Linked DNA regions of Homo sapiens. The protein of the gene in region 1 purifies or fractionates together with the protein of each later gene. This does not show direct contact. Each region holds a gene or a part of one and is shown in the gene's direction. Other genes may lie near its edges. The genes, in order: CSRP1 and YBX3.

The links.
Region 2: the proteins of CSRP1 (region 1) and YBX3 fractionate together in Homo sapiens (co-fractionation; one large-scale study listed by BioGRID). This does not show direct contact.

What each region holds. Positions count from the first base shown.
Region 1 is NC_000001.11:201,486,325-201,490,144, reverse strand, and holds part of CSRP1 (cysteine and glycine-rich protein 1), read left to right. Parts: intron 1-1,160; coding exon 1,161-1,290; intron 1,291-3,820. UniProt on the Homo sapiens protein: Could play a role in neuronal development.
Region 2 is NC_000012.12:10,709,737-10,713,556, reverse strand, and holds part of YBX3 (Y-box-binding protein 3), read left to right. Parts: intron 1-223; coding exon 224-346; intron 347-2,768; coding exon of another isoform or gene 2,769-2,798; exon of another isoform or gene 2,799-3,206; intron 3,207-3,442; coding exon 3,443-3,649; intron 3,650-3,820. UniProt on the Homo sapiens protein: Binds to the GM-CSF promoter. Seems to act as a repressor. Also binds to full-length mRNA and to short RNA sequences containing the consensus site 5'-UCCAUCA-3'. May have a role in translation repression.

The sequences.
Region 1 (3,820 bases):
TTGAGCTCTCTCCCCCACCCTGTATTAGGCCTCATGTGTATTTACAACCATTTTTGGGTAAGCAATGGAAGGCTCAGAAAACCAGTTATTTAAAAGGCAGTCACAGAGCAGTGTCTATGTGTCAGGCTGCTGCAGGAGCTGGGGATGCAGCAGGGACTAAAACAGGCTGGGCTCCTCCCTGCAAGGAGCGTGCATTCTATATTTGTATGAGAGTCAGAGCTGGGAGGGGCCCCAAGAATCACTTAGTCCAATTTCCTCTTTTTTTGTTTTTTTTTGAAAGGGAGTCTTGCTCTGTCACCCAGGCTGGAGTGCAGTGGTACAATCTTGGCTCACTGCAGCCTCTGCTTCTTGGGCTCAAGTGATCCTCTTGCCTCAGGCTCCCGAGTAGCTGGGAGTACAGGCATGTGCCACCACACCCAGCTAATTCTGTATTTTGTAGAGACAGGGTTTCACCATGTTGCCTCCTCTTTTTATAGATGAGAAAATCCAGCCCAGGCTCAGTGACTTGCCTGGGGTCCCACGGCTAGTGAGTGTCGGAGCCAGATCAGGGGCTCAGGGCAGCACCGTTGCCACACCAGCCTCACTGTCTCAGCCCTGCTATCTCTCACTACTGAGAAGAAGTCATTTCCCTTTCTTCGAAATGCCATAGGGTGTCATCAGCCCCACCACACCCCCCTCACCCCACGGCACTCCCTGGCCTCTGGGTAAATGGTGGCTGTTGGCAGTCAGCCTGGCTTGCTCCTCGGCCTGGGGGGTGGACGGAAATGATGGATGAATTACCAAGTTTCAGCCAAGGTCATTGCCCCAGTGGGAATGATTCATCAGCAGATTTCTCCTGTAAAGAATCTGATAATAGACCAGCTGCAGGAATGAGGGGCAGAGGAGGGCAATTCTTAGCAAATGGGGTGTTAAATGATTCTGGGGTTAACTGGGTGACCGAGGGAAGTATGATGTTACAATGGAAATAACATTGTGCTGAGGCTTGGTTTGTCCATCTGTAAAATGGGAGATGACCCTAGAGGCCCTAGCCTTTGTGACTTTGGCAGAGAGAATTGCGCGCTGCTCTGGCATGAGATGAAGGTAGGGTCATGCCCTCTCAGTGCCAGCCCCACCTGTACTTACAGTGTAAGTCACCTCACCCCATGCCCTTCTCCATGCAGAGCCCCTGGCCACAGGCCCACCACCAACCCCAATGCATCCAAATTTGCCCAGAAGATTGGTGGCTCCGAGCGCTGCCCCCGATGCAGCCAGGCAGTCTATGCTGCGGAGAAGGTGATTGGTGCTGGGAAGGTAAGGTGGCTGCTGGGCATGAGAGGGATGGGGGGAGATATCTTCCTGAAATGTGGATTCCAGAACTTTTAAATTGGTGACCTAGCTCTGCTCAGGGCAGCCTGAGCACTGGGGTTTAACCTCTTCTCTTTGTCCCTGTGGGTTGCATGTACCTGTGCTTTCCAGTCTCCAAGGAGCTCATATCAGCCATGAGCAGTAACATCCCCAGCATTGATGGACAATGGGCAATTCATAGGGAGTGGCAATGATCAATCTGTATCTCTAATATAGGAGAACAGAAAGTAAGGGTACGTGGATGGGCTGCAGAGGGTCCACAAAGCCCTGAAGATTATATACAAAGTTTCATGGGAACCTGTCTGTTTCTTAGAAGAAGATCCATAGCTTTTATTAAATTTTCAAAGGATTTGTGATCCCAAAAATATACATTCTGTTTCATGGGATGTGGACTCCCAAAAACCCATCCAAATACCCCCAGGGCAGAGATTTTCAAGGTTCAGACCTACCAGAGCCTCCTAGGAGGCTTTTTTCACACTGTTTAGAATTGCCGCACATGCCCTTCCCCCATGATATTCTGACAGTAGCCCCCAATCACCAATGCACAGTGAGAATCACTGTAGCAAATCAACAGTTCCCAATTGAGCTGATCACTTCCTTCAGATAGGCTGCAGTAGAGAAGAGGCAGAACTCTTGCCCCTGGGGTTTGCAGTGTCAGATTAGCAGTCAGAAAATCACAGAAGAGATGTCTTTCAGCTGTGGGGCCAGAGAGGAATTCTGGAGCATCACGTGAGGCCTGAGATAGAAAAGTGACTTGGCCAAGATCACACAACAAGGTTATGGAATGTCTGGGCCTGGAGCCCATCTTCATCTCTTCTGGATTCAGGTTTTGGCTTTCAAGGCTTTTTGACCTTGAGGAATGGGATAGGGGAATTGATCAAGAAATGTTAAACAATTAACACTTAGGCCAGTGTTAGAATCTCTACTCTCACAGTCATGGTTGGACAGAGATGGGGATTAGTATCCCTGTTGTACAGATGAAGAAACTGGGAGTCAGGAGGATTACATAATTTGCCCAGATCCGCTAGCTAGGAAGGGGCTAAGCCAGACTCAAGCCCAGGTTTGTCTGACTCCGAAGCCCTTGCTCTTACTGCTGTTACTACTGTTAATGCTACTTTGGGCCATTTAGCCTCTTCAAACCCATTTCCAAGGCTGCAAAATGGGAGGGGATCCTAGCACGGTGATTAAGAGCTTGGACTCTAGACAGCCTGCTTTGAATCCTAGTTTTGCCATTTATTGGCTGAGCGAACTTGGGAAAATTTAGCCTTCCTAAGCCTCAGTTCTTCAGCTCTAAAGTGGGCCTGGATGGTGGAGGAAATGCAAAGTGGACCAAGTAATGGCCCCTGACAAATAAGGCAGTTTTTTTTTGTTTGTTTGTTTTTGTTTTTGTTTTCTTTTGGCAGAATTTCACACTTGTCACCTAGGCTGGAGTACAGTGGCGCGATCTTAGCACTCTGCCTTCCGGGTTCAAGTGATTCTCCTGCCTCAGCCTCCCAAGTGGATGGGACTACAGGCACGCGCCACCACACCCAGCTAATTTTTGTATTTTTAGTGAAGATGGGGTTTGACCATGTTGGCCAGGCTGGTCTTGAACCAGCCTGGACCTCACGATCCACCCACCTCGGCCTCCAAAAGTGCTGGGATTACAGGTGTGAGCTACCACACCCAACAACAAGGCAGTTTTAATGATTAAATGAGATAGTACATGTATAATGTGCAATGTAGTGCCTGGTATGTCCTCAGTACAGTTTTGCTATTGTTATTATTATTGTTGTTTATTTTCAGGGATTATTTTGAGGTCACAATGAAGATCCTTGCCATTGACTAAAGGATATGAAAACAGGAGACATTAATATTATTATTAAGTTGGGTTTTTTGTTCTATCTCATTATGAGAATAGAAAATTATTAAGAATAGCTAAGAATCACTATTTCCATTACTTAGGCAGGCTATAAGGTAAAGTTAGGGCTGTACTAAGGAGTAGGATAAGAGAATTTTGCATTCAAGTGGAAAAGGTAGGGAGAAGCCCCACCTTTCTATTGCCTCGCTCAAGAAATGTTGAGCTGGGAGTACTTTTGGGTGCTTATGAATGAGCAAAGGGATTCAGCTTATTTTGGCAGGGAGGTGGCTAGGAAATATGAGGAGAGGTGTTGGTCTAGGTGTGATTCAGTTTTTCTCCAGCCTAGAGAGCTTGGGGTAGCAGCCCCTGCTTTACAGAGGAGGCAGCAAAGGCTGGGTGACTATTGAGGTTGCACCAGCACTGACCTAGACCCAGGTCCCCCCATTTCAGCTCTCTGGAGGAGAAGCCAATGTGCAAGGTTAGGCAACCAGGAAATCTGAGGGGATGAATTTCCTTTCTCATCCACCAGCCTGGGCACTGGGAGTGTCTTTGCCCTTAAAAGGCCTTGTTTTGTCTTATCTGACTGCTGCCTGCCTCTTGCTTTTCCTGGGTTAAGCAGAGCTGTCTACACATCAG
Region 2 (3,820 bases), on another chromosome or scaffold:
AAGAAAGCAAAACTCAGGTTGTATGAGCAAACAAGCCATATATGTTTAAATCAGGATGTGAAGTACCTTGCTCACTTTGTTTAAAACCTAGATCTGTTTTTAAAATCACAGTGGGAATTCTTAGTATGTTCTGCCAGTCTTATACTCTAGCAGTCCAAGGCTGTTTTTTGAGTTAGTGTATATTCTTTTTAATTTTGAGGCCATCTTTTTATTTTCTTCTCAGGGTGCAGAAGCTGCCAATGTGACTGGCCCGGATGGAGTTCCTGTGGAAGGGAGTCGTTACGCTGCAGATCGGCGCCGTTACAGACGTGGCTACTATGGAAGGCGCCGTGGCCCTCCCCGGAATGTACGTTGTCTCTGTTACTTAACCAGTGATTGAGAAATTGTTCATGCATGGAATTAAGTGTATGTACTTGGAGCAGATAAATGCCTTGTCTTCTCCTGGAGACAAATGATTTAAGTGATTTTTATTTTTTCTTTAGAGGAAATTTTTATCTTATTTTTTAAAATGTGTATTATTGATTTCCATAGGTTTTTGGGAAACCGGTGGTGATTAGTTACATGAATAAGTTCTTTAGTGGTGATTTCTGAGATTTTGGTGCACCCATCACTGGAGCAGTATACACGGTACTCTTAAGGGGAAATTTTAGCGCTCAGAACTTTTCCAGAGCCGCTGGTCTCATTAGACACTTGCCATTCAGAAGTTGTATCAGTTAGGATATATTTGGCTACAAGTAATAGACATTTAATTATCTTTTAACAGGAAGACTTAAGGGAGACAGTGCTGAGGTTTTTTTTAACAAGGTTTCTCTTCATTTGGCTCTTTTTTCTGGCCAGAACCTAGTCACAGACATTCACTGGCAAAGGGGAATGGATTTCCATCATTGACTTAACCTTGTTGTTCATTCTTTGGTGCCGACACTGTTGACCTCTAAGAAAATCAAAATTTGGTTGGTGAAAGAGTGAGAAATAACTTGTGAACAGGCAATAAAAGTACAGGCCACAGAACTATTAACGAATTTGCCTTGGTTAAGAGGCTGTTTTATTTAGCATAGCATTTTTCCATTATTTCAAAGTAAAGAAGCAATAAGTGATTCTGTGGATTTTTAGTTCTTTAGGTTGGTTTCAATGCAGGGGAAAGAGTTTGTCACAAATCTGGCTGGAGCTTTCTTGGGAGGCTCAGTTTATAGGAGTATTCTCAAGGCACCCAAAACGGACCCAGTATATTTGTGGTCATGAGAAACTTACTAGATTTGAATCATTCTTGGTGTTTCTAGAATTAGAACCAGGTATTGGCACATTGAAGAAAACTCCGAATGTTTGTCAGCACAGGATTGTGACTGCCTGTCTCATCCAAAGAAAAACTCATCAGAATTAAATATCTGCAGATTGAGAATGACCTATCTTTATGTTTTGATAGCTTTATATCTTTCTGTTTACCTAAATGCTTTTCCTCCTTATTCTGCCATCATCACATCCTGCCCAAATTAATTCTGTCAGATTCCTTAGGACTTCCCACTTGTTTCTTTGTTTTTGCTTATCTTATTTGGTTTTTAATAAGCTATGAGGGGGATAGCTAGGAATGAGCTGCTGTAGCATTTCCTACATCATGTTCTCTTTGAAGTTCATCAGAGTCACAGAGCGCTAACTGTGATTATTTTGACTCCCAGGTTAATTCAAAAGCAAAAGTGGTAGAAAAACATTCAGTGAAAAATTTTTCTTAAAGACTTTTCCTGTCCAAAACCTGAAAATTCCAAAGTCATGCATATAAAAGATATTTAGAAACAAAATTGTTAAAACGCTTAAGAAACAAAATTGTTAAAACTCTTAAAGTATACATAAATGAGCTTTTTTGTTGTAATATCTAAGTCCCAACAACTTGTTCAGTATCTCTCAAAAGAGTGTGTTCAGCATTGCTGGTGCCATTATTATGCTTTGTAAAACTCTTAAAGATTTGATTGTGTGAAATGCAAAAGAGGAAGATAAGCCCAAGAAGAAAAACAGTTTATGTTGTCTCACACTTAATATTTTGGTAAGCATTTTCTGTGCAAATAAACGTTTACATAATTGTGAATCTCATCTTTGGTAGAGGTTTTATGAAGAGTAGAATGACTTGATTTTTTTTGAAGTTAGACTAGTTGAGGCTTTTTTGGAGGGGGAGTTTGGTTGCACATGTGGACTTGTTCTGGAAGGGTCCAAAGCTTAAATACACTCCTGTAAAAAAAAGTAATGGGTCATTATTTTGCTTTTTTTATTTATTCATTTTTAAAAACTAGTTACTTCCCATTAAAGACATTTGCATATCCCCTTTAAAGTAAGACTTGAAATCACAGTCTTTGTAGGATGTTTGGTTTTTTAAAATGTAAAATGGTAGTATATGATATAATTTAAATAGAAGAAAAATATAAAATGAATCGGTAAATTCCTTTGTGAATATTAATAAGATCTATTATTTAGAAACCTCCAGGATTAGGGCTTACTACCATCAAAGTATGATTAAAGCTTTACTCCTAAACATATAAAGGGAGTCATGCCTTAGGTCAGTGGTTCTCAAACTTCCTGATTTTGGGATCTGTTTATATGCTTACATGTTATTGAGGATTCTAGAGTTTTTGTCAATGTTTATTTATATTAATATTATATTAGAAAGTAAAATAAACTTAAAATGTTAATTGATTAAAAATAACTATATGTTCATGAAAATAACAGTTTTTATGGAAAAAAAATATTTAAATTGAAAAGAGTGGTATTGCTTTATACTTTTGCAGATCTCTGATGTATGGTTTAATAGAAGATAGCTGGATTCTCACATCTGTTTCTGCATTCAGTCTGCTGAGAGACCACATGTCATTGTAGCCTTTGGGAGACCCCACCATATACTTCTGAGAGAATGCCTGGGAAAGGCAAATAGCATCTTAGTAATATTATGGCAATAGTTTGACCTCGCTGACCCCCTGGAAGTTTTCAGAAATCCCATCCACACTTTACAGACTTGTAGGAAGAATACCACTTGGGTCAAATATGTTGGTAACATCATAAAATGTATTCTTTTTTGGCTTTTCCCTGACATTGCCTCAGTGGATGGTAAATGCTGGGAGACACGCATTTGATGGAGCAAAAATTATAAACCTTGCAGATACTCTTCGGGTGGTTGGTTAGCTGATACGAGTTCTAATGAGATGACTATTAAATTGATTGTAGATTGATTGCTCTTGCTTTTCTGCTTCTTGGTATTTTATCTGCACAGATCTACTCTAATCTTAATGTAGTTTATCCCAGGCAATCACATGATAATCTGGGTTAAATGCATTTTGTCTGTATAATGGAAAGGATTATATTGCTTTGGGGAGATTTTATTTTGGTGATATTCATCCTAAATGGTGTTCTTTGGTTCTTTCCTTGCTAAAACTTCTTCTGAATCTCTGTTTCTTTGCTTCGCTAGTACGCTGGGGAGGAGGAGGAGGAAGGGAGCGGCAGCAGTGAAGGATTTGACCCCCCTGCCACTGATAGGCAGTTCTCTGGGGCCCGGAATCAGCTGCGCCGCCCCCAGTATCGCCCTCAGTACCGGCAGCGGCGGTTCCCGCCTTACCACGTGGGACAGACCTTTGACCGTCGCTCACGGGTCTTACCCCATCCCAACAGAATACAGGTAAAATTGCAACTGAGACTTCTCTTCAGCAATCCTCACCCTTCCGTCCTTCTCTGCCTCCTCTTCCTCCTCCTCCTCCAACATCAGCTGCCAGAAACCTTGCTTATGGCTTCCTGATGCTACAAAAGCTGAGGCAAGGCCTTCAGTCTGTTTTTTCAAAGCAGTCATTCC